Regions from separate parts of the Homo sapiens genome. Here all the other regions are linked to region 4. The links come from fine-mapping of genetic effects on gene expression. A gene starts in region 4. Each other region holds a variant in brackets. All regions are shown on one strand. Distances are between the middles of the regions.

Region 1 (8,109 bases), 120 kb before region 4:
CATGAAGAAAATATGCTCTCAAACTTGAGACAGCATCATCCATCTACAACATTCTCTAAGGGCAGAGCCAGGTGGCCTGGTGGAGGCTACAGATGCTTCAAGGAGGCCAGACTATGAGGCACAGAAACACAGCAGACTCTATGAGCAAAGTCACTGATTTTCAGTGACATTTTACACTGGTAAAAAGTAAACCAACCAAGCAGTACATGTTTATTGTCCTGAGAATAGGTATAAAAGGGACACTGAGACAGGCCTTTACCATCCACCAGGAATGGTAACTTTTGGTCCTTCAGCAAGTTATATCAAGGGGCAAATTATTTGTTTTCTGTAATGATTATTGTCAGGTAGATAATAAAGTTCAGGCTCACTCTCTCTCTCTGTCTCTATGTGTGTATGTCCCTATCTTCTGAGAATTGAAAGAGACCTATTTTCCTTATTTTTTCTTTTATTGATACATAATATTTTACATATTTATGGGGTTCATATGAGTATTTTTTTACATGCATATAATGTATAATGCTCAAGTCAGGGTATCTGGAGTATTTATCACCTTCAGTATTTATCATCTCTGTCTCCCAGCTACTTTGAAATATACAGTATATTGCTGGTTAACTGTAGTCACCCTAGTCTGCTACTGAACATTGAACTTCTTTGTTCTAACTGCATGTTTGTATCCATTCACCAACCTAAGAGATCTATTTTCTAATCATGGTTCTGTCACACCAATTAGATCCAGAGTCTCGGGCACTCAGTAGCCTCATCTGTAAATGAAGGTGACTAGTAACTAACTGCCCTGACCAGCTTGCAGGCCTGTGGTGAGAATTAAATGTTTATGAGATCACTTGCAGATGTTAAAAATATTATACAAAGTCAGGATACAGTGGTGGCTTACTGTCCACTGGGACAGACCATCTCAACCAATATACTCAGATAACAGGATCAGATAACATGATCCTCAAAAATATTTGGGTCTACAATTAATTAATTGGATGAAAGCATGAATTCCTCTGAGCACAGTGAGAATGAGAAGAATGCAATTAGCCTTCAGCATGGACACGGGTTATTATTTGTTCCTTGCAAGTGTATGATATACACAGAACAAGAAAAGGGGAATTGACATGTCAGCTTCTCTTTTGCAAATTACATCTCTGATGGTGACAAAAAGATTAGATGTCATGCAAGCATCCTAGGATAACCTATGTTTTGCTCACTAGAGAATAGCTTAGCCCAGAACAAGACCTACTCACTGCTTATGATTACTGCCACATAACATACTTAAAATACCTATGCCAAAAAGAAGGAAGGGGACAAAGGCCTCCAATTTATAATGTGAATTCACCTCAGAAACATCATAAACATTTGCCCCTCAGCTTTGTGAAAAAGCAGTTTTTTAATCAGTCCAAAAGCAAAACAAAACAGAGCCACCAGTTTTTAATTCCTCTGAGAGCCAAGGAAAAGGATTTGGCTGAATCCCATTGTGATTCCATTTCCTTCACCCCAGGAGTTCAGCAGGAGGGGTCTAAAAGCGAGTCTAAATCCTGTCCTGCTGTCCACCCTTTCCAAGTTAACAGATAAAGACAGGGGAGGGTGGCCTCGTAGGGCAGAATGGACAGGCATTCCAGGGTCTAGAGGACTTCCCTCGGCTCCATCTGAGGCTCTTTCTTATGTGGTGGGTGTACAGGCTGTCACAGACATCACTGCACGTTCCCAGAGAGCACAGGTAGCACAGTAAATACCACGAGACACAAGGACAGGTGCCACCAGCCCGCCCAGAAAGACTAGATGAACCCAGGCCAACTGATTTCTGGGTGCGGTGATGTGAGGAAAGGGAAATCGTGGGACTCAGAGCCCCGCCCTCTCCCTCTGTGGTCAGAATGCACATAAGACAACTTTCCTTTCAGGGAGGAGAACAAAAGAATGCTCCCGTGCAGCCTGGCAGGTGCCTGCTCAGGGAAGTACCACTCTGCAGTGTGGGACGAGGGCCGAGCGCCTTTGTCCTGAGTGAACCAGTGCAGTGCTCCATGCACACAGGTAGCCCCTGGGGGCATAGGAATTGCATAAGACAGCTTGAGAGGCCAAGAGAAAGTCAAGCCCACCCTTCCTTAGTCTGTTGGTAAAACAGCCCAAGACTAGGGGAAGAACACATGGGACAAAACCTTTTCCTTTACCCTCCAGGCTTCTGTTTTCAGTTTGACTTTTGCTTTTTTTTCCAAACACTTGTCAAGAATAGATTCAACCTCTATCTAATCCAAAGAGGTATGGGGCTGGGCGCAGTGGCTCACGCCTATAATCCCAGCACTTTGGGAGGCCAAGGCGGGCAGATCACCTGAGGTCAGGAGTTCAGGACCAGCCTGGCCAACGTGGTGAAACCCCATCTCTACTAAAAATACAAAAATTAACTGGGCATGGTGGCGTGCACCTGTAATACCAGCTACTTAGGAGGGTGAGACAGGCGAATCACTTGAACCCAGGAGGTGGGGGGTGCAGTGAGCTGAGATCATACCACTGCACTCCAGCCTGGGCAACAAAGCAAGACTCTGTCTCAAACAACAACAACAACAAAAAAGAGGTATAGGAAGTATTACATTAAGAGTGTGGTGTTCCAGAGAAGATTCCATATCTTAAGAAAGCACCATCAAAAACAATCTACTTTTAGCTATGTGCCTAGAGATGGTTATACCTTTGTAAACAGAGACCAAGAAACTCAGTTGCTGTCTTACTTAAATTTAGGGTTGGAGATATGAGACTAACCCCCTTATAAATTTGGGAGTCCTTACTTGATTACACCCACCATGAGCTGCCTTCATTTTGAAACTAGCTGTTGCTGTTGATAATAACAACCATTTTGTTGCTGTTTCTTTTCTTTATGAGGCTAGCAGGTAACCACCTGTACCCTGGAAAGGATGTCTGCTGGAGTGAGAGCTGTCCTAGGGCTATCTACCAAAGATGGGAAGAAATGCATTCCAAAGAGATGCCCCACTCCCCCATGACATTAGTGACCTAGGTCTGAAGTCTCTTCCAGCTTCCTGTTACCATTAGGCTGTTAGGCAGAAAGAAGGTGGGGGCAGGGGAAGGGGGAGGAGGAGGGGAGAAGGAAGCGGGAGAAGTTTGGAGAAAAGACGGAGAGAGCAAACTGGAGTATCTCACACTAATTTGCCCCTGCACTTCTTAATTAGGAGGCAGGTTGTAAATATCTTCAGAACTCTCCTAAATTTATAAGTTAATCAGCAGAAGCATTTGAAGATGTACCATTTATAGCAAGATCCCCCTAAAAAGAGAATCTTGCTGTCGAAAACAAAACTGAAAACAAGTGATGAGAAATCAAGCTACAATTTGAGTGTATGCTCTATGCTGAGTGTTACGTGCTGGTTTCCAGAAAAAAAGAACCATTGGTTCTGTCTGATCCCTTACAGCCAAGACATGAGAATTCTAGAACTCAGATCCTTAGAGCCGAAGGGACTCCGGGAGGTCTAGCAGCCCAAGTCTTGGAATTACACGTATATTTTCAATTCTTGCACTTAAAGAAAAGAAAACTGAGGCTCAAAGAAGTGGCAAGCCTTGCCCAAGGGGCCCCAGCTGGTGAGTACAGATTCAGATTGGCTGCCACCCAGAGCCTTTTCAACTGAGCCGCTGGTGCTCGGGCCCGTCTCCCCACCCGTTCAAGCTGATGTGATTTTCAGGGCTTACAAGGATTAAGGAATGACAGAGACAGAGAGAACTCGAGGGCTGCTGGAGGTTACATGCTAGTCCCTTTACCTGGGAAATGAAGACAGCCCCAAGAGGCTGAACAACCTGCCCCAAGTCACTCAGGAATGAGTGACACAGCCAGACCTGGAGCGTCTCTTCTCTATCATTGTCCAGTGACCTTTCTCTTTCTCAAAGGTCCCTCAGGTGTCTGGTGGCATCTCTGGTGACACCACACCTAGAGAGGCCTTAGGGTCCTCTTAGGGCTCAGTGAGTGTTAAATTAAAACCACACAGGGTCTGCAGGCCTCGCTGGGATGATACGTGCATGATTTCCCAGGCTTACTCAAGCAGCTTGAATGGTGACCCGATCATCACCAAAAGAGACTCCCTATCAATTCCCTGGAACCTGTGAATGCTAGCTTATTTGGGAGAAGAGTCTTTGCAGATGTAATTAAGCAAAGGATCTTGAGATGGTGAGGTCATCTTGGATTATCTGGGTGGGCCCTGAATCCAATGACAAGTGGCTTTACAGGAAAGAGGCAGAGGGAACTGTAACAGAGAAAAGGAGACAACACGCAAAAGGCGATGTGAAGACAAAGCCAGAGATTGGGAGGCTGCCACAAGTCAAGCAACACACAGAGCCATCGGAAACTGGGAGAGGCGAGGAAAGGCCCTTCACTAGAGCCTTCAGAGACAGCATTGCCTTGCCTGCACCTTGCTTTCAGACGTCTAACCTCAAGAACTGACAGAACTCAGTTTAAGAACTAACCTCAAGAACCTCAAGAACTGTTTAAGCTTGTTGCTTTAAGCCACCACTGCTACAGCTGACACAGAAAACTAATACATTTGTAAAGGGATAAAATAAATTCATCTGTGGATAAAATAAATATAAAAAACCCACAAAACCCCAAGGTTCACAGTATTTACAACAAATCCACCATCACAATATTTCACCACCACCAAGACCCAAGCATGAGAGGCCGAGGGAGGAGTGTGTGGAGACCGTCCTGCTTTGTGTTGGTAACCAAGCCAAACCGACTCACAAGCTGTCACACGTCAGTGTGATAACCCTGCAGGACGTTTTTCTAGCTCACACGCCCATCTAAGGACTACGTCTGCTGGGTGGAGGCTGAACATGGTGCAAACTACTCCCAGACGCCTCAACTCTGAAAGCCCC[G/A]CATGGAAAGTCTCCAAGTCTTAGGCCTCACAAAACGGCCTTCACAGAAACCTGAAGCCAATTTGAGAAGAGGTCTCTGCAGCCACAGTGAATGCCAAATGACTCAGGTCTTGAAGCAGAAAACAGAGTAAGCACATGTTTCTTCCAAATGGCATGTTCTTGGATCTAGCTTTATTTTAGATTTTCTTCCCCACAGCTGTTGAGCTAAATCTGAAGGGAATCAACACACACACACACACACACACACTCACACACTCAGACACACACACACACAGAGCCCTTTTCCCTCCCCAGCATGTTTTGGGGGAACACAGCTCCACATGTGGACTAAGAAGACTGCAAACACGGCTGTCACAAATGTGGGGACCACGTTCAGTATTTTCTCGTCTCTCTTTGTACAGCTGGACATCTGGGAAATCATTCTGATGTTCTATTGTTTCTTTTTATGAGGGCCAGGCTTGGTTGCTCATGCCTGTAATCTCAGCACTTTGGGAGGCTGAGGCAGGAGGATTGCCTGAGGCCAGGAGTTAGAGACCAGCCTGGACAATAGAGTGAGACTCCCGTTCTTTACAAAAAATAACAAAATCAGTTGGGTGTGATGGCATGCACCTGTAGTCCCAGCTACTCAGGGGGCTGTGCAGAAAGATAGCTTGAGCCCAGGAGTTCAAAGTTGCAGTGAGGTATGATTGTACCACTGCACTCCAGCCTGGGCAACAGAGCAAAACCTTGTCTCTAAAAAAAAAAAAGAAAGAAAGAAAAAAGAAAAAAAAAAAAGAAAAGAAGAAGATGATGATGAAGAAGGAAGAAAGATGAAAGAAGAAGGAAGAAAGAAGAAATTAGAAGGAAGAAAGGAAGAAGGAGGAGGGAGAAGGGAGGAGGAGGGAAGAGAAGGGAGGAGGACGAGGAGGAGGAGGAAGGAGGAAGAAGAAGAAAAAAGAAAGAGAAAGAAGAAGGAGGAGGAGAAGGAAATTTCCAAGTTGCCCCAACTCAACAGGTTTATTTCAGTCCTCCACAAGAGATCAAACTCAGGAATCCCAAGGGAAATGGCGTCAGGCCCCAATCAGGGCACTTCTGAGAAGAGCTCTCTGGGGAGGGATGAGGGATGGACTCAGGGCCAGGAGGGGAGGCACCAACCTCCTGTGCATCACACTCTGAGCGCTGTGATGGGACCGCTCGGACTCCAAGCTCCCCATCAGGTGGGTCCCATCCACCTTCTCCAACAGCCTTCCTGGGGATATGCTTCTTTCTCCCTGGTCAAGACACTAGTTTTGAAGTGTCCTTGGGTCAATAATTAAAGCTTTATTGGAAAGGCTATGAGAGAACTCTTTCCACCCTTCCTGTGTGTGCGGAGGGTGGGGGCCCATTTCTCAGGCTCCACTCCAGCTAGCACCACCATCATTTTGTGCCCAAAGTTCTGTAGTAGCCTCCTAGCTGGCCTGTCTCCACCCCAACTCCCTTCCCAGCCATTTAAAAAACATCTGAGCTGAAATGCACGTACTATAAAATTAAACATTTTAAAGTGAACAATTCAGTGGCACTTAGTACATTCATTCACAATGCTATGCAACCACCTCCTCTAATTCCAAAATATTTTCATCACCCCAAAAGGAAATCCTGTATCCATAAAGCAGTAATTTCCTATTTCCCCTTCCCCCAGCCTTTGGCAACTACCAATCTGCTTTCTATCTGTATGGATTTACCTATTCTAGATATTTTATATAAATGGCATCATACAATATGTGGCTTTTTGTGGCTGGTTTCTTTTACTTAAAGGCTCATCCTGTGGTTGGCAGCACTGCTTCAAGGCTGGATAATATTCCACTAGTTGGATACACCACATGTTGTTATCCATTCACCTGCTGATGGACATTGGGTTGTTTCTACCTTTCGGCTGATGTGAATAGGGCTGCTGTGAACGCGTGCGTACATAGATTTGAGAACTCTCATACGTTCTTTACACAACAACCTGGTCTAATCACATGACACTCCAGCTACAAGCAGTTCAATGGCTTCCTACCGCTTTTAGGGTAACACCCAAACTCCAGAATATGACTCTTGGGACCCTGCCCACTTCTCCAGCATCATCTGTCACATCGGTGCCCAACTGACGTTTCTTATGTATCCTGTGCTTTTCCTCACCTCTGAGCCTCTGCAGGTATTGCTCCCTCTTCCCAGAACCCTCTTCCTCGGGCTAAGAGGCAACTGCATTTGACCACAACCACACCCTTCTCTCCCAAATGCAATCAGCTGCCCACGTCCCAGCACACATCCAATGCTGGCCCCTCTGTGCTTCATGGAAAGGGTTTACAGTGGGATTTAGGGGGCTACACTGGGCCTTTGCTGTGAAACCCCACGGAAGAGACAGCACAGCCCAGAAACACCATGGTGGCGGGGAGGGGGGCCTCAGATCTGTGTCTGTGTCTCTGAAACGTGCCCTGCTGGGAAGGTGGAACATGGCTCCGTGGATTTAGCAGCCTGGTCCTTGACAAAGCAAGATGACAAGCTGCAGCACCTGTAGTCATCCCCCTAGTTGTGGGGCTTCCTGACCCACCTCTGCTTGGGCCATACTCTCCACGCTGGCAGGTGGGCCACAGATGAGGCAGTCTTACTTCTTCCTTGGACCTGGCTGACACCCCACAGGCCTGGGAGAAGTAGGGTAGCGACTCCTTCTGAACTCTGGCCCCAGAATTCTGTGTCTCACCCCAGAGGAACTGGCTCAGCCCAGAGGCAGAAGCCTGTGTGGCGGCTGCTGAGAAAGCAGGAAGAAAGCTCCCTAGCTGGAGGCGGTTGCACCTGAACTTGACAGGCTTCAGCTCAGCCCCGGCCACAGGGTGCTCTGGGTCACACAGGATGTGGTTTTTGAAGTTTGGGGAAGCCAATGCCTCTACCTTTCCCCCACCCTTCCTTTCTTAGCTTCCATTCTGAGCCTCTGCTCCCTGAATCTGCACACGCCCACAGATGCATGCATAGACATATGCACACATGCACACATGGATGTATACACACATGATTTCACACCCTTTTCATTTACTCTTGTCTAACTTCTAAAAATGAAAATGGTCTAATATAGCCTGTCCTACATAACTCCTACCAGAACCTTTATCATTCTTTTTTTTTTCCTGTGCAAATTCTCCATCATTCTAATTTCCACGTGAGCCTTTGAGGAGAGTGCAGCACCTTAATTCTTGAAAATAGTCACCTGCGACTACTTTCTTTCTCCACAGGTGAAAAAAAGATGGAGGAGGT
Region 2 (8,109 bases), 140 kb before region 4:
GCCTACCTGGTATCCACACCCTCATCCATGCCTTGGCCATGTGGGCTCTGCGTCAGCCTCAAATATGTTAACCTGCCTGTATTAGTCCGTTCTCACACTGCCAATAAAGACATAGCTGAGACTAGGTCATTTATAAAGGAAAGAGGTTGAATGGACTCACAGTTCCACATGGCTGACACGGGGAGGCCTCACAATCATGGCGGAAGATGAAGAAAGAGCAAAGGGACGTCTTACATGGCGGCCAGCAAGAGAACTTGTGCAGGGGAACTCCCATTTATAAAACCATCAGATTTTGTGAGACTTATTCACTACCACGAGAACAGCATGGAAAAGACCCACCCCCATGATTCAACTACCTTCCACCAGGTCCCTCCCATGACATGTGGGAATTATGGGAGCTACAATTCAAGATGAGATTTGGGTGGGGACACAGCCAAACCATATCACTGCCTATACCTTCCCACATCTTAAATTTCCTGAGAGAAGCTACTCTCAAACTTCTCTGTGCATTAGAATCAACAGGGTAGTTTTAAAAAAGTATAGTTGCCTGGGGCCCCTCTAGAGAAAGTGATTGCAAGGTGTAGCCCAGGTTGAAAACTTCTAGACTGAAATGAGCCTTCTCCAGCTCCCCTGGACTTAGGCATTTTCTTTGATTTGCATGTATTTCTTGACTTGAATATACATTTATATATTCATATAAAGCACATGCCATTTATATAATGCAATGAATTATAACTGCTGGCTACCTAGCAGATTTTTCCCCACTAGACTTTAATTTCTTGGGAACAAGGACATTGTCTCATTCATTTTTTGTATTTCCAGAGTCTAATGGGCGTTGAACACATATTAGGTATTTTTTTGTATAAAATAGTCTATTTCATATAACAAAATACCAATGCTCCAAGCTTCTACTGCTACCTTCTCTAGGGATTTTATTTTTATTTTATTTTATTATTTTTTTTTTTGAGACAAGGTCTCACTCCCATTACCCAGGGTGGAATGCAGTGATGCGATCTTGGTTCACTGTAGCCTTGACTTCCTGGGCTCAGGTGATCCTCCCATCTTAGTCTCTTGAGTAGCTGGGACTATAGGCATGCACCACCATTCCCAGCTAACTTTTTGTATTTTTATTAGAGATGGGGTTTCACCATGTTGCCCAGGCTGGTCTCAAACTCCTGGGCTCAAGGGATCACCCGCCTCAGTCTCCCAAAGTGCTGGGATTACAGGCCTGAGCCATTGTGCCCTGCCACAGGGTCTTTTCAGTCTTAGCTGAGTGTGTTCCCTCCCTCCTCTGTGCTCCTACAGCATTTATTTATTCTGTTAAGGTAGTGCCTTGAACTTATCAATATCTTTGAAGTCTTCCACTAAAGTTTAAGTTCCATTAAGGTAGGGGTTGTCTTTTTATAATCGCACATTATAAGTATAATTATATAATCAGTTAACATAGTACAAGAATGAAATGTTAAATTCTTGTTTATAGAATCAATTATACCTCAAACTAGTATACAAAAAATGTAAGTTTATCACTGAGGAAAATTCTAACGTCACAGAACAATGGCAGAACAAATATTTAAGAGCAAGATGTATTGCTGAATCCACGAGATTTTATTCTATTCTAAGCAATGTTTTTCATTTTAATTTTTTTTATACCCTTCTCACCTCTTTAAAAAAATTTTTTTTTGAGACAGAGTCTTGCTCTGTCACCCAGGCTGGAGTGCAGTGGTGCAGTGTCGGCTCACTGCAACCTCCACCTCCTAGGTTCAAGTGATTCTCATGCCTCAGCCTCCTGAGTAGCTGGGACTACAGGCATGCACCACCACACCCAGCTAATTTTTGTATTTTCAGTAGAGACAGAGTTTCATCATGTTGGCCAGGCTGTCTCAAACTCCTGACCTCAAGTGATCCACCCGCCTCAGCCTCCCTAAGTGCTGGGATTACAGGCGTGAGCCACCACACCTGGCCCCTTCTCATGTCTTTCTAGAAAAGTCCCATTTCCTATCATTTTGTTCCCAGTGTATATTTTGGCAAAGACTTGTTCTAATTCTTTCAGTTTGCATCAAACAGGTCATCTGTAGAGACTAGTCTCAACTCTCAGCAGAAAAGCCAACTGTCCATATTCTCCAGTTTCCCCTTCCAGCTGTTCGGAGCATCATTAAGTTTAAAGACCTCTCTTTCCTGTGGACCCAGAAGGTCTTGCTCTGCAGTTCCCTCAAACTTGAACACGGTGGCATCACTTTCTCATCAACAAACAATCTCAGGTGGACAGATGCTCTCTCAGTGTCTTCCTGGAGCAGAAAGACCTGGATAATCCCCATCCAAGACAAGTCAATTTCCTTCTGTCCAATTAGGACAGTAAAGCTGCTTGGTACCACTTCCTTGCTGCAGGCCAGTCGTGCTGAGCACAAGATGACTCAGGTGAACTTTCCTGGGGGGAAGCTGCTTATTCCAAAAGTAATGGGTCTATTAAAGACAGGAGCCCAAACAAAAGGATGTTTTTTTCCTGTGCGTAAAAAGGGCTGAAATTAGCGAACTGGGGAAAGAAAATGTGTTACAATCCAATGCAATGTGCACTCACGGAGTACCTCTTATTCACTCGTGACATGCTGATTCCTCTGGGGACCAGTCTGCAGAGAAGCCAAAAGGCTTTACGTAGGAACCTTATTCATCTTTGCATTCTCGAAGTGTGCAAATAGTAAGTGGACAATAGACATTCATTGAGTGAAAGATCCTGCTTCTGAATCCAGAGGAAGGGACAATGTCTAACTATAATTCAAGGGGTCAGGCAGGACTTCACGGAAGATATAACTTGTAAATTGGGATTAGAAGGATAGCAGAATCCAGGCCAGGTGTGGTGGCTCACGCCTGTAATCCCAGCACTTTAGGAGGCCGAGGAGGACGGATCACTTGAGGTCAGGAGTTCAAGACCAGCCTGGGCAACATGATGAAACCCTGTCTCTATTACAAATACAAAAATTAGCTGGGTGTGGTGGTGTGCACCCAGAATCCCAGCTACTCAGGAGGCTGAGGCAGGAGAATCGCTTGAACCCAGGAAGTGGAGGTTGCGGTGAGCCGAGATCGTGCCACTGCATTCCAGCCTGGGTGACAGAGTGAGACTCCATCAGATAGAAGGAAGGAAGGAAGGAAGGAAGGAAAGAAGGAAGGAAGGAAGGAAGGAAGGAAGGAAGGAAGGAAGGAAGGAAGGAAGGAAAGAAAGAGAGAAAGAAAGAGAGAAAGCAAGCAAGCAAGCCGAATTTTGCTTTTATTACTTATATACCAAAACTCGAGAGTTTTTTCCTATCACTTACACTATAGTCAAGAAGACAGTCACCTGTACTCTCCATCCATCCTCCTCCATCCATCCTCCCTTTCCCCAGCAAACCAAACCAAACCAGACCCAGAAAACCTAAACCTTTGAGAAACTTACCAGATACTTTCTCACCTAAAGTTACTTTTCTGTGTAATTTTTCAGGTACAACAATCTGCTGAAAATTCATTTCTTACCCCTTGTACATTTAACTGATAAACGTGATGAATTTAGAAAGAAATGTGATGAATTTAGAAAGAAAGCATATCAGTTCTTCATTCAGAAATGCAGCTATCTTAGGAGAAAAATGTGTTTCAAATGTCCGCAAGATATGCTATAATGGCTCAGAACAGGAAGAAATTAGCTTCATTTCAGTAACAGCCAGTATTCTACCACCTCTTAAATCAAGCAAAAACATTTATCACATAAAAGAAAATAAAAAAAAAGAAACC[C/T]CACTGGCAAGCAACATCCGGCAGTAACAATTTCACACTCAATTTATCCTGAGCAGGTTAATACCACACTGTGGCAATTTCATCTAGTCGACATGCTTCAGCTCACCCCTTTCTAACCTATTGTAAATGACCAGCAATCAAAGCCCAACTTGGTCTGTGTGCTGGTATGCTCAGGGTCAAGGTGAATTCACCTTGGTGGCGGGTAGGAGCAAAGGGTATCCCTCATAAGCCAGGAATGAAAGAACCACCAAATGAATTCTTAGTGCTTCCTGTCTAGCACAGAGCTAGTAGATACAAGCAATCGATTTTTCCATGAAAGGTGTCGATGCCAACACTACCAAGAAATCTATCTTTTGCCAGAGAGATAGCAAGGATTTAGTGCCCCTGCAAATTCTTATTGACTATTAAGATGTGCCAAGTTTGGGTCATACTGCAAATTTCCAAGATACATATACTCCTGAAAATATCATCCAAGCCTGCAAAGTTTTCACATGACACCATCACTCAATGACTATACTCAAGGAATAACTGCATCTGTCCTACAGGCTCCACAAGCATCACTTTTAGGATCTACAGATTAGTTATCTCAGGTAAGTTTCTCTACTGCTGCTCACCTAAGACTCACAGAATAAAAAAGTTGCTTTCCGATACTAGCTGGAAGCAAACATAATTAAGTGAAATGAGGCCGGGTGCAGTGGCTCACGCCTGTAATCCTAACACTTTGGAAGGCCAAGGTGGGCGGATCACTTGAATGGGAGGGGGAAAGGGGAGCCGGAGATTGCGGTGAGCCAAGATCGCACCACTGCACTCCAGCTGGGTGACAGAGCGAGACTCTGTCTCAAAAAAAAAAAAAAAATAAAGTGAAATGAGCATTCTGAATTATCAGCTGTTTTTGTAATTTCTGCAGTCATTCCTTTGAATTATTGCTTTTGTGAGACAGGGTCTCACTATGTTGCCCAGGCTGGAATGCAGTGGCGTGATCACAGCTCACTGCAGACTCGACCACCCGGGCTCAGTGATCCTCCCACCTCAGCCTCCCAAGTAGTTGGGTCTACAGATGCATGTGCCACCATACCCAACTAATTTAAAAAAATTTTTTTTGTAGAGACAGGGTCTCCCTATGTTTCCCAGGCTGGTCTCAAGCTCCTCGGCTCAAGTGATCCTCCTGCCTTGATCTCCCAAAGTGTTGGGATTACAGGCGTGGCCACCACTCTCAACCTGAATTAATTTTTATAGTTGAAATAAAACTGTCTTTTCTTGCAGACTGCATGAAAACCTATGAAAAGGTATTCAAAGTACAGGAAGCAGGCCTCCCACAGGCCATTTAGCAGAAGTTAAGACTATTTCTACACTACTGTGATTCTTTTTGGAAGTTTAAAAGCTTCAGATTGAAAACTAAAAAAGAGAGGAAAAGCGCCTGTCATTGAGACCTACCCACCATGGTGTCCTTTGAGACTAAAGATTAAATTATTAGTATAGTCACCATGAGTTTCTGCCCAAATGCAAATGCACTGACCTTCCAGAGAAATGAAAAATCTAACACAACTTCTGAGGAGATCTCCCAGAACCTGAAAGCAGTTTAGTCCAGGTCAATGCAGCAGGGGATGGGTGAGAAGGAGCGCGTGCATAAAATCACATTAAAGGTAAGTCATGACAAGGGTCATTTAAGTGACACGTGACTGCAATGCTGCATTCGAATTAGGTTAGTTCTGAGATTCACACAAATTGGGCCAGCTACCCTGAGCTCACAATTCCCGCAGCGGCCATGTCAAGGCTACCCTGCTTTTGGTGTGCGGCAGTGGGATCTTTCCCCAAATCCAGATGTGGAAGCTGCCATTCCCTCCCGTGACCCTCTCCCTGGCCACAGTGAATGGTCTAGAGCTGGAGAGGTGACATTCCGATGGAATCTCTTCCTGGGACTTCAGGATGTGAGCTGGGGGTACAAGAGCCCTTTCCACCATGGTTGAGAATCCCTGAGCTGCAGCCTTATGCTTTTCATGCAGAGTGAGTTCGTGAGTGTGAATGACACACACAGATAAGCAGACAGAGCTGACGGGATGCTAATGACATCTAAGGCCCTGTCCCCTCCAGCGGCTTGGCTATGTGAGCCTCTTTTCTGCTTCAGCTGATGTTACTGGTTGACTTGTGTCCCCCAAAAAGATATGTTCAAGCCCTAACTCCCAATACCTCAGGGTGTGACCTTATTTGGAAATAGGGTTGTTGCAGATGTTAATTAGTTGGAATGAGCTCATACTGGAATAGGTTGGGCTGTTAATCCACTATGACTGATGTCCTTATAAGAACAGAAGAGGGAGGGAGACAGACAAGGAGAACTCTAAGCAAAAACAGAGGCAGAGGTTGGTGTTTTGTTGCCATAAGCAAGGAAGCTGGAAGAGGCCAGAAGCTGGAAGAGGCCAGGGTAAATCTTCCTCTACCGGCTCAGAGAGGACATGGCTCTACCCACACCTTGATTTCACCAGCCTCCAGAGCTGTTGGAAATTAAATTTGTCTTTTTTAAAACATCCAAGTAGTGGTGCTTTGTTATGCTGGCTCCAAAATACAGCTGGTTTGAGGTGAGTTTCTGTCCCTTGCGACCAAAGCCATTGTCTAAGGGAGTGAGGTGAGCAGGTATCAATTTTAAACATTGTCTAAGGGAGTGAGGTGAGCAAGGTATCAATTTTAAACATTGTCTAAGGGAGTGAGGTGAGCAGGTATCAATTTTAAACATTGTCTAAGGGAGTGAGGTGAGCAGGTATCAATTTTAAACATAAAAAATGTTTTGCGGCCAGGTGTGGTGGCTCACACCTGTAATCCCAGCACTTTGGGAGGCCAAGGCAGGCAGATCACTTGAGGCCAGGAGTTTAAGACAAGCCTGGTCAACGTGGCAAAACCCTGTCTCTACTAAAAATACAAAAATTAGCCAACCATGGTAGTGTGTGGCTGTAATCACAGCTACTAGGGAGGCTGAGGCAGGAGAACAGCTTGAACTGGGGAGACAGAGGTTGCAGTGAGCCGAGATCGCATCACTGCACTCCAGCCTGGGTGACAGAGCAAGACTCTGTCTCCAAAAAAAGCCAAAACAACAAAAACTGTTTCGCATCCAAGTACCCTGTGCAACACAAAAAACAGCTGCTTCCTTAAAGAAACTATTGAAAACAGATCACAAACCCAGCCACAATTCTTTATTTTTGCATTAATATAACTTTCTCCTGAGAAATAAAACAAATAGATGGTGTTGGTTTTGTGAGCTTCACACTGGATTCAGTCAACCTTGGAAACTCTTTGAAACAATAATTAATGCCAGTTAATCACAGGGAAAGGCTGCCATTCAGCTAAAACTCTCAGGGCTTACAAAAGCACATTTTTCTTCCTCTGTTTCCTTTCAGTTAGACTATCAGATATGCAAACACTCTTCTCATTAGCCTCTTATTTTGCTGAATTCAGTAAGAAATTTCCTAGAAGACTTGCAGTTCTGGCTGGTGCTTTTCTGGGACCTGCGATTAACTAATAGTAGATGCCATTCCTTGGGACTCCGTTTTTTTTTGTTGTTGCTTTTTATCCTCAAAGAGCAGGGCTGTTGATTACGACAAGAACAAGGCTTTTGCCCCTTTCCTCACCTCCAGGAGGAAAAACCTGAGAGGGAAGAGCAAGCACTCCGATTTTTAGATGGGAGGGCATGGGCTGAGTTGAACTGTGGTCCCCCAAAGATATGTCCAACCTGCTTTGCAGATGTAATTAAGGTAAGGGTGTTGAGAGAAGGCCATCCTGGATTCAGGTGGGCCCTGAATCCAATGACAAGTCTTTACAAAATACAGGACAGGACGGGACCAGACAAGACAAGGAAACTGACCAAGAGGGCAAGCTGGACCCACATGAAGATGAAGGCAGAGACTGGAGCGATGCAGCTCCAAGCCACGCAGCACCAAGGATGCTGCAGCACTGGAAGCCAGGGGACAGGATGAAGCAGACCCTCCAGCAGAGCCCCCAGAAGAACCCCCACTCCACACCGACAACACTTTGATTTCAAACTTCAGGCCTCCAGAAATGTGACAGAATACATTTCTGTCATGTTTGAGCTGCCAAGTTTGTGGTGATCTATGATATCCTTAGGAACGAATTCAAGGCATCAACGACAGCGCATACTTTAAAGGGCGGGGAGGGGGGCCACAGTACAATGTGGGTCTGTACTTTTTTGCGATAAACTGTGTTCACAGCAGGACAAAAAACTTGGGATTTTTAGGATTTCACAGAAATTGCCTCATAATCAACCACAATGTTGAAGCTAAAGTTTGTCTGAAACCTTCCTCATCATGCAAATCTTTTATTAGCTCGTCACCTGTATGTGGTGCTGTG
Region 3 (8,109 bases), 200 kb before region 4:
TACTGAGTCAAATTTAGATTTCTGGCTTTTGGTTATTGGTGTTCTGAAACTTTTGTCTTTTCTTCTCAAGAGCTGGTTTAGCATCCAGACCCAAATATGTTATAATGTTGACTTTATTATTTAAGTCATATATTAGTTCCTAAAAATTATGAAATATCATCCCAAACTATTGATCTATTAAAAAGCTAATTTATAAAAATGTTATCTCATTTATCCCTCTCCTAAAGAGAAGTAACTAGTTCCTATCGGGAAAAAATGAGTATAAAAAACACAGAGGAAAACAGGGGAAGGAAGATTATAATTTGCATTTAGAAGGAAATAGTGTTTTAAACCTGTTGCTGAATTAAAACTTGGTCTCATTTGTCATCATCAGTGCTCAGGGTATCGCCTGGCCAGGAGTAAGTGCTTAATAAATGTCTGTGAATGAATGATTGAAGGAGGCCAATTAATTACCTCCACAGCTATTTATTGGCCTAATTTAGCAAGCACCATGGCAAGATTCACCATCAATTTTCTCTAAATTAAAGGAAGCCAGATGCTAGTGCAATAAGTCCTCACTTAATATCAACAGGTTACAGGAAACTGCAACTTTTTTTTTTTTTTTTTTGAGACGGAGTCTCGCTCTGTCGCCCAGGCTGGAGTGCAGTGGCGCGATCTTGGCTCACTGCAAGCTCCGCCTCCTGGGTTCACGCCATTCTCCCGCCTCACCCTCCTGAGTAGCTGGGACTACAGGCGCCCGCCACCGCGCCCGGCTAATTTTTTGAATTTTTTTAGTAGAGACGGGGTTTCACCATGTTAGCCAGGATGGTCTCAATCTCCTGACCTCGTGATCCACCCGCCTCGGCCTCCCAAAGTGCTAGGATTACAGGCGTGAGCCACCGCACCCGGCTGGAAACTGCAACTTTAAGCAAAACAACATATAGCAGGTCCTTGAAGAACGTCGTTTATTTCAACCTAGAACACTGATGAGGGGAAAAACTAGTTTTTTTAATATTTCAATTCACTTAAGTCACAGTTTCCAAGTAAATGATGATGATAAGTAAAGACCTGTGTACAGCACTGGGCTCACAACAACACCCCTTTTATAAGTTTCCCATTACAGCTAATCTTTGACAACTCCAATATAAATGTTTCACTGAAGAAAAATGATTTAATCCTATGAACATTAGAAATTAACAAGAGTAATCCATAACTGAAAAACAGAATCATTCTTACGGTCTTTTCTCGAAAGAAGGTATAATGGGTCTCAACTTTTACTACTGCTTCTGAACCCCCCTGCCCCATGCTTTTGTTCTTTCACATAGACCTCCACTGTCCTTGCAGAAAATCAGATGTTTCCAGGAAAGTTCTCGTAGGTTTTGGTTATAATACACAATCAAATGAACCCCCATTAAATCAGTTTTTATCATTATTAGCCAGTGTCACGCACACACAAAAATATCTGCATATGCAGGACACAAACTTTAAGGTTATTAGAATTAGACATTTGTCCAGGGATTAAAATATTTCTATCAACAAGACCCTGTGTTGGCCAGTGCCTGTAGAAGCCCCTCACTTCTTGAATATGGTCAAAGCCTCTCAAAGGTTATGGAGTAGCTGTCTGAATTCCCAAGGACTGGATTCTGGCTGAATGCTGTCACCAGTTGGGTGTGGTTCTATATTAGGCTGGATGTCTTCAGCAAACATTCACCTCTCTAGTTGTTTTTTTTTTAAAAAAAAAAAAAAAACACTACTTTGTTCAAATTTTGTAAGCAGATGTAACTATAATCATTTAAAACTTCCCACAAAGCATTTTTAAAAATCAGGTAAAGAGAGACCCAATAACACACCCATCTCAGCAATTCTGCAGAATGTGCTTTTCACATATCACAACCGCTCATCGGGGAATAAGTTCTTGGAATACATAATGTTGCTAGGTACCAAATTCTTAGCCCTTGAAATACCAAAGGCATGACAAATTTTGGGCATTTTTAAAAGAAAAAGGAAAATTCTCAGGAAGAGGCCTCTTTCCCTTTTCTAAATTAAACACCTTATCTGTATTTATTTTTATTTTTATTTTTTTTTGAGACAGAGTCTTGCTCTGTTGCCCAGGCTGTAGTGCAGTGGTGCAGTCTCGGCTCATTGTAACCTCCGCCTCCCAGGTTCAAGCGATTCTCCTGCCTCAGCCTCCCAAGTAGCTGGGATTACAGACATGCGCCACCACATCCAGCTAGTTTTTGTGTTTTTAGTAGAGACGGGGTTTCATCATGTTGGCCAGGCTGATCTCAAACTCCTGACCTCAAGTGATCTGTGGCGCCTTGGCCTCCCAAAATGCTGGGATTACAGGCGTGAGATACTGCACCTGGCCAATACCCTATTTAAATGATATAACTTTGAACCCAACCCTGGCAGGAAATAACTTATGGGGGCCCTAAGAGGCCATCTGTGCATAGTTCCTTACTTAAACAAAGTAATGTGTGACACACCAGATGAAATATCATATTTGGAAGATATCATTATTTTCATCATCATCGTTGTCATCATCTATCAACCCTGAATAAGATACTGTTTAAAAATAATAGGCCGGGCATGGGCATGATGGCTTATGCCTGAAATCCCAGCACTTTGGGAGGCTGAGGCGGGTGAATTATTTGAGGTCAGGAGTTTGAGACCAGCCTGGCCAACATGGTGAAACCCTGTCTCTTCTAAAAATACAGAAATTAGCCAGGTGTTGGTGGCAGGCATCTGTAATCCCAGCTACTCAGGAGGCTATGGCAGGAGAATTGCTTGAACCCGGGAGGTGGAGATTGCAGTGAGCCGAAATTGCACCACTGCACTCCAGCTGGGGCAACAAAGTGAGATTCTGCCTCAAAACAAAAAACAAAACTACTCTGTGTGTGTGTGTGTGTGTGTGCGCACATAATACAATAGTACATATATATATATATATCACACTCATAGCTATTTTGTTCCTTTAAGTCCTCAGATTGGGCTACCCTAAGTTGTTAGTGTTCTCATCTATTGTAGTGACAAGCTACTATATTTCTATTTATGTTTCTATTTCTATTTCTTGGCCTTCATTTTTACCTCCTTTCCTGTTAGCCTAGTAAGCTAATTTTTTAGACCTCAGGGGAGCATTCACTCACAGGACTCTCACTGTACTTAACACATTTAAATGCCCATCTCCACTTTCATTCTTCTTTTTGGCACCATGAGAGCCCGAGTGACTAATTCTAAGACAAGCGAATAGAGATGGGGGTGTGCGATTCTGCTGTGGGGACCTGTTGGAGCACTGCCTAGCTTTCTGGACTCAGAGTGCTTACATCCCCAAATATAAATGAACATCTTGAGGGAACCTTAAGATAAGTTGGCAGCATCCAGAATTTTGTGACAGTTTTAAGATTGCCGGTTCTTGTCTAAAG[C/T]GTCAATAAGAGTTACGGTTTCCTTCAGCAAGTGTCAAATATATATTTACATCATGGCAACTCATATTTATAGCAAAAGAGGAAAGATTCCTTTCAAAGAAACTTAATATATGTAACCCTCCTGCTCAGAAATCCAATTTATACTTCATGGACACAGAATGTCATGTCTAGCAGTATTTCAAAGGGGAAGCAAGAGAAACTTAGCAGACACTTTACAAACGAAGCCCGAAACAAAGCGAAAATGGTTTTTCCAAATCTCTAGGCATAAGGTTGTCCAAATGGCCCAAAGATATACTAAGATAGAATGAGGCTACAAGGAAGTTTGGAGGACAGAAATAAAAATACACCCAACCAACAATGGATGTTATGGAAAATGAATGGGGAAGCCAGTGAAGGAGAGAAACAGTCTGTGCCGTGCATCTCAGCTTTACAACCATGCAGGCGTCCTCAGCTCAGTGAGGCCCCAGGCCTGGGTCACATGCTGCAAAAACAAGGAACAGGAAGTGGACTTGGGCAATGGAAGGCTGGGCTTCTGGCTGCCAGAGTGGCAAAGGGCGCCCCCTGCCTCTGAGATGGACATCCTACCTTAGGTCAAGCTCCCAGCTCACATCCATTAAAAACAAAACAAAACAAACAAACAAACAAACAAAAACTCCCTCAAGTTCCAAGACAAGCTCCAAGATAAAAGTCAATGAAGGGCCACAAAAAACCCTGGAAGACATTGACTTATCTCAAAGATATCTTGGATGTGTTATCAATGGCCATAGGCTCCCCCCATTCAGAAATTTCTAAGTGCTGGAGAGGTCTTCCATGTAAATGGATGCATGTTTTTCAAAATAACTAAGACGTAATTCCTTGGAGAATCCACATTTAGCCAAATACACTAGGCTTTTAAAGCAATATCTTTAATGTACAAAATCTCCACCACATATCTTTTTTTTTTTTTACACTGCTCCCTGTGGAGCAGGACTGCCCAATAGGCAGTGTGCCCAAAGCAGCCAATGATTTATCTTTAAGGTTGGCAAAAAGCTCATATGATTGAAAAACTAAGTATATACTGTTATGTACATTACACTTTGCATCTGAAGCATAAAGACTATTTCATATGAACAAACTATAGGCACACGTCTAGTAAAAAGAAAAAGGGAGAGAGACTATTAGATGTTTTTAAGTTCAGGGTCACTAATTCCTTTTGGATAATGCTTTTTATCATTTAAATCCAGAACACCTGACGGTGTCAAACACTTCAAATGCAGACTGAAAACAGAAAAGAATGTATATCTACATTTTTAATAAAGCACCATTTAGGAACATAGGGGTGTTATAATTTTTATAACCATTTAATATTTCTATGGAAAAGTAAATATTTCTTAATTTTGTGATCTAAATGACTGAGGATCATTCTTGGTCTAAGAGTCAATAAGAATGCAATTTTCTGGCTAAAAGGGATGAAAAATAAAAGTGTGCTTTAAAAATTATCTTCACACATATTTATACTGAAACGCATGGCCCTCATATGAAGGAGCGTTCCTGGGGAGGAGGGGGCCTGGGTCTAGTCCAGCACTGCCATGTCCTAGTGGTGAGCCCCTGGACAGTTACTTAGCCAGGGCCTCTGTACTTGGTCTCCTCACTGAGCCCATTTCCCAAGAATGCTGTGAAAAGTGAACAGAATGATGGCATCAAAAATGATTTAAGGTCGGGCGCGGTGGCTCACGCCTGTAATCCCAGCACTTTGGGAGCCCCAGGCGGCCAGATCATTTGAGGTCAAGAGTTCGAGACCAGCCTGGTCAACATGGTGAAACCCCGTCTCTACTAAAAATACGAAAATTAGCTAGGCGTGGTGGCGCACGCCTGTAATCCCAGCTACTCAGGAGGCCGAGGCAGAAGAATCGCTTGAAGCTGGGAGGCGGAGGCTGCAGTGAGCTGAGATTGTGCCACTGCATGCCAGCCTGGGCAACACAGTGAGACTCTGTCTCCAAAAAAACAAAAAAAAGCAATTTAAGAGCACCATGCTGACCAAGGTGGGTGTGCCCCACACCAAGACACTTCACCTCGTGATGTAGGAGTCTCATTGTTCTTGATTTATAGAGGAGTCAAGTGACACTCAACAGGATAAATAAGCAACCCAAGGTGATACAGCTAGCAAGTGACGGAGATCATATCTGAACCCAGATTCCAATGCCCATGGGCTTTTCAACTCTCCACATGGCCACTCATGGACATGAAGCAGTATTAGTCATTGACCATTTATGGACACTTTGTGCTGTGTTATTTGGACAAACTGTGTAACTTTATAGGGCCTGTGACACTTTTCTTTCTACAAAAAGTATCTCTCTACAAGTTAAAACATATAATAGCCAAGTGAGGAAGTTTACATTTTAATGAATCAATAATGCATTTTTTCTTAAATATCAGAAATAACCAAAATCTTTGTTTTCTTTCTTTTGTTTTTTTTTTGAGACAGGGTTTTGCTCTGTCACCTAGGCTGGAGTGCAGTGGCTCGATCTCAGCTCACTGCAACCTCCACCTCCTGGGCTCAAGCAATCCTCCTGCTTCAGCCTCTGAGTAGCTGGGACTTCAGGCACGCACCACCATGCCCGGCTAATTTTTTTTTGTATTTTTGGTAGAGATGGGGTTTCGCCATGTTGCCCAAGCTGGTCTTGAACTCCTGGGCTCAAGCAATCTGCCCACCTCAGCAGAAATAACCAAAATCTTAATTTGGCTAATGGCTGTTATATTAAAGTCTCTTTAAAATACACAACTGAAGGGTTTTTTTTTTTTTTTAAGAAAAAAAAACAGCATAATTTCTTTATGATTTTATAAACATTCTCTAAAGTATAATCTTGACATTTTATAAATAAAAATTTTCCCCCAAAATACTAATTAGCACTTATAATTTAAAATAATCTGTCGGCTGAGCATGATAGCTCACGCCTGTAATCCCAGCACGTTAGGAGGTCAAGGCGGGTGGATCACTTGAAGCCAGGAGTTTGAGACCAGCCTGGCCAACATAGTGAAACCCAGTCTCTACCAGAAACACAAAAATTAGCTGGGTGTGGTGGTGCACACCTGTAATCCCAGCTACTCAGGAGGCTGAGGCATAAGAATCGCTTGAGCCTGGGAAGTGGAGGTTGCAGTGAGCCAAGTTTGCACCATTGTACTCCAGCCTGGGTGACAGAGTGAGACTCTGTGTCAAAACAAATAAAAAATAAAAAAATAAAATAAAGTAAAATAATCTGTCAAGAGTTTTAGAGAGTGTTGCACCTATCAAAAAATTTGCTAATGGCAAATGGCACGTGTACCTTAACTCCAGGTATGTGTGTCTTTGATAAGCATGATTGCTTCAATAAGCAATATTATTTTCAAAACATAGAGAATGCTGAAATTAGCAAATTTATAAAATCACTGCATACTGATAAGTACAGTACATGTACCTTTTAGGATTCAGCCGCTCAACAACCAAGTGAGCACAAAGAAAAAGCTTCGGTAGACTGACAACGAAAATTCAGTAAACCAGAACAAGCTCCTCAATGGAAGCATCAGGGCCATGACACATGGAGCAGCACATGGTTAAGAGTCCTTTAGGACTGTTTTAAGACCTGTGATAACATCTGTGCTTGCCTCCTCCTTCCTCCTTCAGCTATTATTATTGGTTTATTTGGTTCAAATCAAGTTCGCACCATTCTGGGAACTCCTACTTAATTTTAAATTATGACCCCTTTGTAGCCTCTTCAGGGTTCTCGGCTCCCCCAGTGTGGAGAGTCCCAACTGAGGACGGCTGCAGAAGCATTGCCGACAATGATGAAAAAGAAGGGATGGGGCAGAAATGTGAGGCAGGAACAGAAAACAGAAGGCAAAGCCTCTCTTCTGCATCATGTGGGAGTTAGGACAAATCAAAAGATGACTGCTCTGAGAGTCGGCTCAAAGAGAAACATTGATGTTGCCATAGATCTTTTAATGCTGCCCAAACATGTTAATATGGTCATGGTTTATCACCGGTAAGACAACTTTTGGATATCTGTTACTAAACACTGTCGTGTTTTGCTGAGACACGTTGCGTATTGAACCCAGGAAAATATTCCAATTATATATATTATATTTTGTTTCGATGCATCCAAAAACAAAATAATAATATATATATATATATTTTCTTTTTTCAAAGTAGTGGATAATAAATCTTATGGTCTTAAACATACTTCCTGCTTCTTCATCTAGAGCCCTTAGAAGTGACATATTTCTCCCAATGAGAGATGCTATGCCCGTTCTAAGACAACTGTTGGGTATAGTCATGACACACGCAGGCATGCTGAGAGCTCAAAAGCTCGGCACTAACTCTTGGAGATACACCTTATTAGCCTTCCCAGGGTGCTAATAAATCTCCACTATGCAGGGTGCTGCCTGGAGAAACCTGCCTCCTTACCTTTGATATGGGGAATGAAGTGGTGTCGGAAAGGGGGGTTGGGGCGGGAGTCGCTGTGGGTGGGGCTGAGGCTGCTGGTGCGCAGGTACGACAACCTCTGCACACCAGGAGACAAAAGCTCTGTGCAGCAAGGAGTCAGGGGCAGGGCACGGTGGAAACAGAAAAGAAGAACAGAAATTAACACAGGAGCAGGGAAAGTGCCATCGTTCCAAGGGAAAACAAAATAAAGAACGTTAATCAGGAGGCTGAAAAGGGAGGAAGGAGAAAGGGTTAAGAGTGCACCTGCTA
Region 4 (8,109 bases):
TGCAGCATCGTGAGATCTTTCTGGCAGCTGGAGGAGGCCTTTGCCAAATATTCCCAAGCACCCTGCCAGGAGCTGCTCCTGAACACTCTGGGGCTTCGTAGCACAGGAACATGCATGGCTGCAGGAGGGCGCACTTCCTCCAAGCACCTGTCCTAAACAGGATGCTCTGAACACACAGTGGCTTTCTGGGAATCCCACGTCCTGTGCAGCATCTATAGTTCTGGGCCTCTATTGTTTCACAGCATGGAAGGCAAACAATAGAAATTATTTTTAACAATAATAAACAATTTTTTCTTATTTTATTATTTTAATTCAGCCTCCATAGAGACTGTCAAAAATGACTAATGCTGACTATATTGCAATTCTATTATTATTACTGAAATTAACATTTAGTGGATGCTTTTGTGTGCCACTATACCAAACACTTTGATATGCACGTTCTCATTCTTTAAATTTATTTTTATCTTTTTTTACAATTTTTAAAATTGAGATAGGGTCTTGCAAGTTTGCCCAGGCTGGTCTTGAACTCCTAGGCCCAAGTGATCCTCCTGCCTCAGCCTCTCAAGTAGCTGGTACTATAGGCCCACACCACCATGCCCAGCCAGGTTCTCATTTAGTTCTCATAATCAATACTGCCCTTAGACACACGCAAGCAGGGCCCCTGCCCTAACCCCATTCCTTCCTCAAAAATGTCTAAGTGCGCTCTGGTACCTGGGATCGCTGGGGCCAGCAGTGCTGTCTGGATGGGGAATCTGAGCCTCCTCTTCACAGATCTCTCTAGTGATCCTCTGCATCTCTCCCATACTGTGCAAGGGGTTGGCCAGATGCCCCAAGGAGCCCCAGGAGTCATGCCAATGGGTTTCTTGGGGCCCTGGAGCTGGCTCCATTCTAGGGGACAAGCCTAGCAAGCAATCACTTCCTCAGGCTGGTGTGGCATTTCTTTCCCAAGACTGAAACAGATTGAGCTGTTGACACACTGCTTTGGGTGACTCAAATTGTTTATATAGACAGGAGCCCTACAAAAAAAATCTGCCCAGGGCCCCATCTACTCTAGGGATAGGCCTGCTCAAAGCAATCCTATAAGGTATGCATTCCCTGCCTACCTTAGGGACAGAGAAACGCACTTGGAATCACTAACTTCCCAAAGTAACACATTTAGTGAGTAGAAGAGCTGGGAGTCAAATTCTGGAATGTCCAACCTCAAAGCCACACTTAACTAATCTCCCAGATTTCCTTATCTGCCTCCACTAAGATATGGATATCCCAATGATGATTACCTTTCCTGTATCCAGAACTCTCTCGGATACTGTTAATTCTCTTGTTCCCAAGTGAGGGAATCTGCTGATAAGTCATTATCCAGCATGCTTTCATTAAACTACAGCTTACCTGGCTTCCCCTTGCCTTCCTGCCTTCTCCTCCCAACAGATCTTATCTCTTTCAAGAGCAACAGTGGCTCATTCCAAAAATATCTGATTTGAGTCTGTTTGAGTAGAAACATTCCATAGAAGCATCGAAGTCATTCAGAATAAAGTGTTAGCTCCAGCAGAAATCTACATGTTTCATTTTTATTCCTATTTGTGGAATAAAACATTTTTTCCTCAATAAAGGGATTCTAGGTATCCCCTAGTATGTGGATCTGATTTTTGAGGGAGGTGTCATTTGCTACAATAGGCATACTCAGCTGGTTCTGAACAAAGTCTTCTTAGCAGAGCTTGTAAGGGGACTGGGCAGAAGGCATGGCTTCTTCATCCCCGCTCCCTGCTCCCCTAAAAAGGAATGTGCCTGGAATCATGAAGAGAAGACTGTTAAGAGTAAGAGACAAGGAGCTGTTACCATCAGCAGCTGTCGAAGTCGGTATCCTGTCTTGCCTGAGCACTGATCTGCTTGTCAGCCCTCTCTGTCCCAGCCAAAGCTCTGTATAGGCACAGTGAGATACCGCTTCACACCCACTAGGATGGCTAGAATAAAAAAGTCAGATAAGGCCGGGCGCGGTGGCTCATGCCTATAATCCCACCACTTTGGGAGGTGGAGGCAGGCAGGTCACCTGAGGTCAGGAGTTCCAGACCAGCCTGGCCAACATGGTGAAACCCCATCTCTACTAAAAATACAAAATTAGCCAGGTGTGGTGGCACATGCCGGTAATCCAAACTACTTGGGAGGCTGAGGCAGGAGAATCATTTGAACTCAGGAGGCAGAGGTTGCAGTGAGCCGAGATCACGCCATTACACTCTAGCCTGGGCAACAAAGCAAAACTCCGTCTCAAAAAAAAAAAAAAAAAAAAAAAGGCAGATAATAGCAAGTGTTAGCAAGGATGTGGAGAAACTGGGACCTTAATATGCTGCTGGTGGGAATGTAAAATGGAGTAACTGCTTTGTGAAATAATCTAGAAGTCCTTCAGAAGGTTAGACATAGTTATTATATGACCCAGAAATTCCACACCTAGGTATACACCCAAGAGCCCTGAACATATCATATGTCCACATAAAAACCTGTATATGATGATCCTTTTGATGTGTTCACACACGCGTGTGTGAGGTGAGCCACCCTCGAACCTTGTTATGACATTGGCACATTACCCATCTGACACGAAAAAAGAAAAAAAAACCTTGTATATGGATATGCATAGAGGCATTATTCATAAAATCCAAAAGTTGGAAACATCCCAAATGTCCATCAGCTGGTGTAAGCAGAAACAAATTGTGGAATATCTATACGGTGAAATAGTATTTGGCCATAACAAGGAATAAAGTACTGACACGTGCTACAACATGGGTAAACCCTGAAAACATGCTAAGTGAAAGAAGCCATAAACGAAAGACCACAGATTATAAATTCCATTCACATGAAATATCCAGAATAGGGAAATCTAAGAGGCAGAAAGTAGATTTTGATTTCTTAAGGCTGAGAGATGGGGATGAAGAGGTTGGGGTGGGGAGGCGATAGCTAAAGGGTACAGGGTTTCTTTTTGAGGCAATGAAAATATATATGTAACATATCAGTTGCATACTAAAACTCGCTGAACTATAGACTTTAAATGGATGAATTTTACAGCATATGAATTATAACTCAATAAAGCTGTTGAAAGCTGATTGCAACAAAACAGAACATCTTAACTCCAGTACTTCAGCTAAACTGAATCCAATTCAACTCTGGCTGTCCAAGAATGACGAGGAATGCGTTATGCTTCCTGGCTTATTTGACTTAACTTCATACATTCGTAGGGACCATGGTTAATTGCCTTCTGCTTCCTGTACCAATTCTAGGTCTGACTTTGACAAGGTGTGAGCAGTTGGGTAGGTATCATCTTCATTAACAAAGGCACCATGATAACTTCAAAGTCTGAAAACTCCCAAGTGCAATAACTCTATCCTCAGAGTGGGCCTTCTCCACCTCTTTCCCAGGCAGAGGGATGAGTGACACGTTTTAATGAGCTTCACTGAAAAGAAGCCTCAACAAGTTCTCTCAATATTAAAACACTTTCTTTTTATTTTATTTCTTTTTTAGAACATTTCACAAGACGAGCCCTCCCTACACAGTGACACAATTTGGACCTCAACTTTACTTATCTTTTGCTAGCCTCCATCTCCCCCCTTGAATATTTCCTTTCCATTCATCCTTTGTCATATGAAATAATAACATCTACAGATAGAGATCTTTCTTTTCCATCATACTTCCTATTACTGACAATTATTCATACCAAGTTTGGAAAGAGATACATTTGTTACTGAAGATCATAAAATCCTGGACAAAAATATCCTTGGGATTTAGCTCCGTAGCTACACTTATGTTACATTCTCCATCTCTCCCACCCTCACCCCCATTAATTATATATTAAGGATAGTGTTTCCTTTGAAGAACACATTACAGAAGAATGATCTGGATAGTACTCTCTTAATTACGCCAATCACAAAACACAAAACCATGTCCAGAGAGGGTTATTTTACTTACCAAAAGGATCAACGCTGTTACATACACGCCCACGTGGGCAGTAGTCCTTGGGACAGAGATACAGCAAATGAGTGATAGTGGCACGCCTATGAGCGGTGAAGGAGGTCCCAGAGACCCTCCGGTCCTCAACAATCAGTCTCTTTCTGTTCGAGCCCCTGGCACTGGTTCTCTCAGATGAGGTGACTTTGCTTTTCTCAGAGCTGCACAATTTCCCCAGACACTTTAGACCAAGGAAGGCAGGCATCTTGGCATGGATTTCCAAGCAATGAGAAATGGGGAGTGGGGACCCAAGGAGCGGTGCTGCCCCACAATTCTCTCTGTTCCCCTGGCTCCTTACTGTCTCCTTTTCTCACTGCCCAGCAAAGAAGATTAAGGGAGATGTATTTAAGTGATTACCCTCAAGAGCTTAGGGCACCATATTCTCAGTCAGATGACTAGGTATAAAAACAGCCACTACCAGGAACTCGAGACTTTCAGTCTCAGACATGAATGCATATTTGAAAATCAGATTAATATCCAGAATAAGAGAAAGAATATAACTGCAATATCTAAAAGAATTCTCCTGCAAATACTCCTAGAATATTCAGTATCATCTGGTAAGAGTACTGAGAATAGGGCTAGGGATATATACACATATTTTATATAATCTAAAAATGTCTATCAGAAAAATCCCAGGGTAATAATTCCAAGTTTTCCAGTATTTCAGATCTCACAGGTGGAGGTGGGGAAGGCTCGATAAAGATCCTCAGCTTCAATTCGTGACAAATCCAGCTCTCAGCCATAGTAAACGATCATTTCCTTTCCATTTTCTAGAAGGGGACCCCTCCCCTCAGTACCAGGAAAATCCTTCTGCCTCATTCCATTAAGCCAATGTTTACTGTCGTAATGTTTCATGGGTTTTCTGTGATGGCAGAATCATATGATGGAGACAGAATTAACATGTAGGTAGCTTCAGCTTTACACAAAGTTACAAGCTAGAAGGACCTTCATGGAATTAGTGTATTGATATAAAAAGGACAACCCCAGTAATTATCATTTACTCTTTAACATCCACACAGTAAGATGCAGTACAAAATGTGACCGTCTACAACCATACAAAAGTCCCAAGTCAAAATGAATAAACTCACACTCCTTCTCCTGTCATTGGGCTATTATGTTCTAATATAAATTCCTTTTCATTAAAACCCTAGAATAGAATTATAGAGCTGACAAGGCCATCAAAGGTAATCTAGTCCAGTAGTTCCCAAATATTGCTGTGCATAAGAACCATCTGCAGGTGCGGTTGCTCACGTCTGTAATCCTAGCACTTTGGGAGGCTGAGGTGGGAGGATTGCTTGAGGCCACTTCGAGACCAGCCCTGGCAACATAGCAAGACTCTGTCTCTACAGAAAAAAAAAAAAAAATTAAAACATTGGCCAAGTGTGGTGTCATGCATCTGTAGTCCCAGCTACTCGGGAGGCTGAGGCAGGAGGATTGGTTGAGTCCAGGAGTTTGAGGTTACAGTGAGCTATGATTGTGCCACTGTACTCCTAGGTGACCGGGCAAGACTCTGTCTCAAAACAAAAAATCTGTAGAACTTTTGAAAAATACAAAATATATATATACGGGATTCTTGCACGTAAAGGTCAGGAACTTACATTTCTTTTCTTTTTTTATACTTTAAGTTCTAGGATACATGTGCACAATGTGCAGGTACATATGCATACATGTGCCATGTTGGTGTGCTGCACCCATTAACTCATCATTTACATTTCTAAACATTCTCCCAGACTAGTGCCAGCACTCAGGAAGCACTGATCTACGCCAGCCTTTAAGATGAGGAAGGTGAGTCTCAGAGAAGATGTGACTTTCTCAGGACAATGCAGAGAGCCTAGGGTGGAGCCGGGTCTTCTGCCTCCCATGCTGACTCTTCCTATCCAATAGTCGGGTCCTTCCACAAAGGCCCCAGGCAGATGAAGCAGAGAAAGGAAATTCTTGCTTCTTTTGTTACAAGTTCCTAATCTATTGGCAACACAATTCAAGAACCTGAGAATTCCAATTTGCTAGAATTATTCTATGCCAATGTGAAGCACGGTGGGAATGGAAGAAACAGACGCTGTCTAGAGGCACTCAGACTGAGGTGGACTTGGGGAAAGTGGGAACATGGGACTTCTACCACTACTGAAGTCACACCTCAAAATTTCTGCTCCAAAATTCTGGGAATTAAGCCCAACACCAACCTCCAAAGTCTTCCTCTAAAAACAGTTTACAAAGCAGGTCAAACAATCTGTATGTGTTCTTTTCCCTGTTTGCCTATTTTGAGGAACCTTCAGATATACAATGTAAGATGTTCTATCAATGTTTCTCAAAATGAGGGTAAGGGATAAAAGACTAAACATTAGGTGCAGTGTACACTGCTAGGGTGATGGGTGCACCAAAATCTCAGAAAGCACCACTACAGAACTTACCCATGTCATCAAACATCACCTGATCCCTCCAAAACTATTGAAATTTAAAAAAAGAAAAGAAAAGAAATACAACTGGAAAAAAAAAAAGTGGCATTCATCCATCAAAAAAAAAACCGTATTTCCCAAAATGTGATTTCTGGGCCAATTTGTTTAAGATGGAGATCCCCGAGGGCCACCTCAGCCCTACCAGGTTCTTCTAGAGTGTTTTGTAATAAACATCGTAGTGTGGGAACCCCTGCCTTTCATTGTTAATTCTTTCTTGCTGGGTTTCCTGGAGCTCTGCTCTTTGCAAACTGAGAACCTGAGCAGCTACTTGCTTATATGTGCTTACATGGTCTTTTTGTGAAATATAGATGTGTTTATATAGAGGAACATGATACAGCCACTTTGAAGGCAGGCTCTGGAACACAGTAACAATGCACAAACACAGACTTTGGACAGAAAAGAGACTATTTCCTTCAAACCCAGCATCTTCCTGACCTGGAAAAAAGGTAACTCTTCCATAACAAAGCTGTTCGGCTTTCTTGGTCCCTAAACTCATCAAGCATTGCCCACAAAAACTATTTCCACTGCATTAACTCTACCTCAGTGCTTAGCCATTGTAGCTGCAGAGCATGCACAGAACACTCCTAAATTTTTTTTTTTACAAGTTTACAGATCCATATATTTAGTTCAAGATGCAACTGTCTTCTAAGAGACTGCGAAAAGGAAAAGAAAATAAATTCTTATTCAATAACGGAATTATACGTAAGAATTTTGATACTTTTTTAGGTCAAGATGCAAAGCAAACTACATATGGATCATGAAGACGGCTAATGAGAAAAACAAATGGTTGCTTGCTTTTAAAGACAACCGAACTACATATAAATGTGAGGGGGCTGACTCCATTCTCAGGCAGTGGAGAGGGATGAGAGTTCAGATGCTGGCAGCAGTGACTGCAGACACCTGTGAACTAAGTTCCACTCCCCAAGTGCTCAGAGCTTTTCACTTACCCTCCTCCACATGGCTCCAGTTAAATACCTAGCAGAGGCCAAGCCTCCAGTCTTAAAAATAGACTTGCAGTGGTATCTGCCTGACAGCAACCTCTTCACCCAGGAAAGCACAGTTGGGGAAGACCCTAAAGAAGCACCAGTGGATTCAGGTCTTTCACTGCTGCCTTCTGCCACAGCCCACATAAAACTACAGTCACAGCAATCACAAAGGAGTGCAGTGGGTTTTGTGACCGTTTCTATGGTTCTATGATATGATATCACAATGCACCACATTACAAAGCTAATGATAATTACAAATGTTGAACTTCTGCCCAAGATTTTGCTGGCCTGTGTATCTTATCAGATAGGAAATTCCTAATCTTTCTAGAAGCAGTTCCACTGTACCTACTCAAGCTCTTCTATGATAGACTATGAAAATGAACCATCAGTGGGAAAATTCACCAAGGGGCACTGAGGACACCCAGCCTTTGCATGCTGTAGGAGCTCAATAAACACCTGATGTGATGAGCCCCAGCCCAAAGCCAGGTGTTTTGGGGCTACACAGTGCTCGGCGAACAGATGCCTCAATTACTGCTCTTTCTTCATCAGTCACAGTGATTCTCCACAAATGAACATGGACTTTATTCTATATAGTGATTTAAGTCTTTTTTCTCAGACAAGTATCCCCTCCCTGCTTAAATCATCTGCTAGGATCTACTTGCTTCTCACTAAAGAATAAAATT

The links.
Region 1: its variant is fine-mapped to the expression of ABLIM1 in whole blood (INTERVAL, PIP 0.97).
Region 2: its variant is fine-mapped to the expression of ABLIM1 in whole blood (TOPMed, PIP 0.98).
Region 3: its variant is fine-mapped to the expression of ABLIM1 in whole blood (INTERVAL, PIP 0.91).

What each region holds. Positions count from the first base shown.
Region 1 is chr10:114,536,814-114,544,922 of GRCh38, forward strand. All of the region lies in intron 6 of ABLIM1 (actin binding LIM protein 1), which reads right to left. Among named protein-coding and RNA genes, the nearest start is that of ABLIM1, 120 kb to the right of the region's middle. RefSeq lists enhancers at 4,340-4,389, 4,740-4,919, 7,391-7,500. The variant G/A (reference allele first, on the strand shown) is at 4,864.
Region 2 is chr10:114,509,703-114,517,811 of GRCh38, forward strand. All of the region lies in intron 6 of ABLIM1 (actin binding LIM protein 1), which reads right to left. Among named protein-coding and RNA genes, the nearest start is that of AFAP1L2, 110 kb to the left of the region's middle. The variant C/T (reference allele first, on the strand shown) is at 3,757.
Region 3 is chr10:114,455,224-114,463,332 of GRCh38, forward strand. All of the region lies in intron 12 of ABLIM1 (actin binding LIM protein 1), which reads right to left. Among named protein-coding and RNA genes, the nearest start is that of AFAP1L2, 55 kb to the left of the region's middle. RefSeq lists an enhancer at 4,717-5,218. The variant C/T (reference allele first, on the strand shown) is at 3,402.
Region 4 is chr10:114,654,009-114,662,117 of GRCh38, forward strand. It overlaps ABLIM1 (actin binding LIM protein 1), which reads right to left and starts at 4,267. Exons shown (of 23, transcript NM_002313.7): 1 at 3,949-4,267. The coding sequence starts at 4,192. LOC124902588 (small nucleolar RNA U13) reads left to right here and starts at 2,487; the gene lies at 2,487-2,586.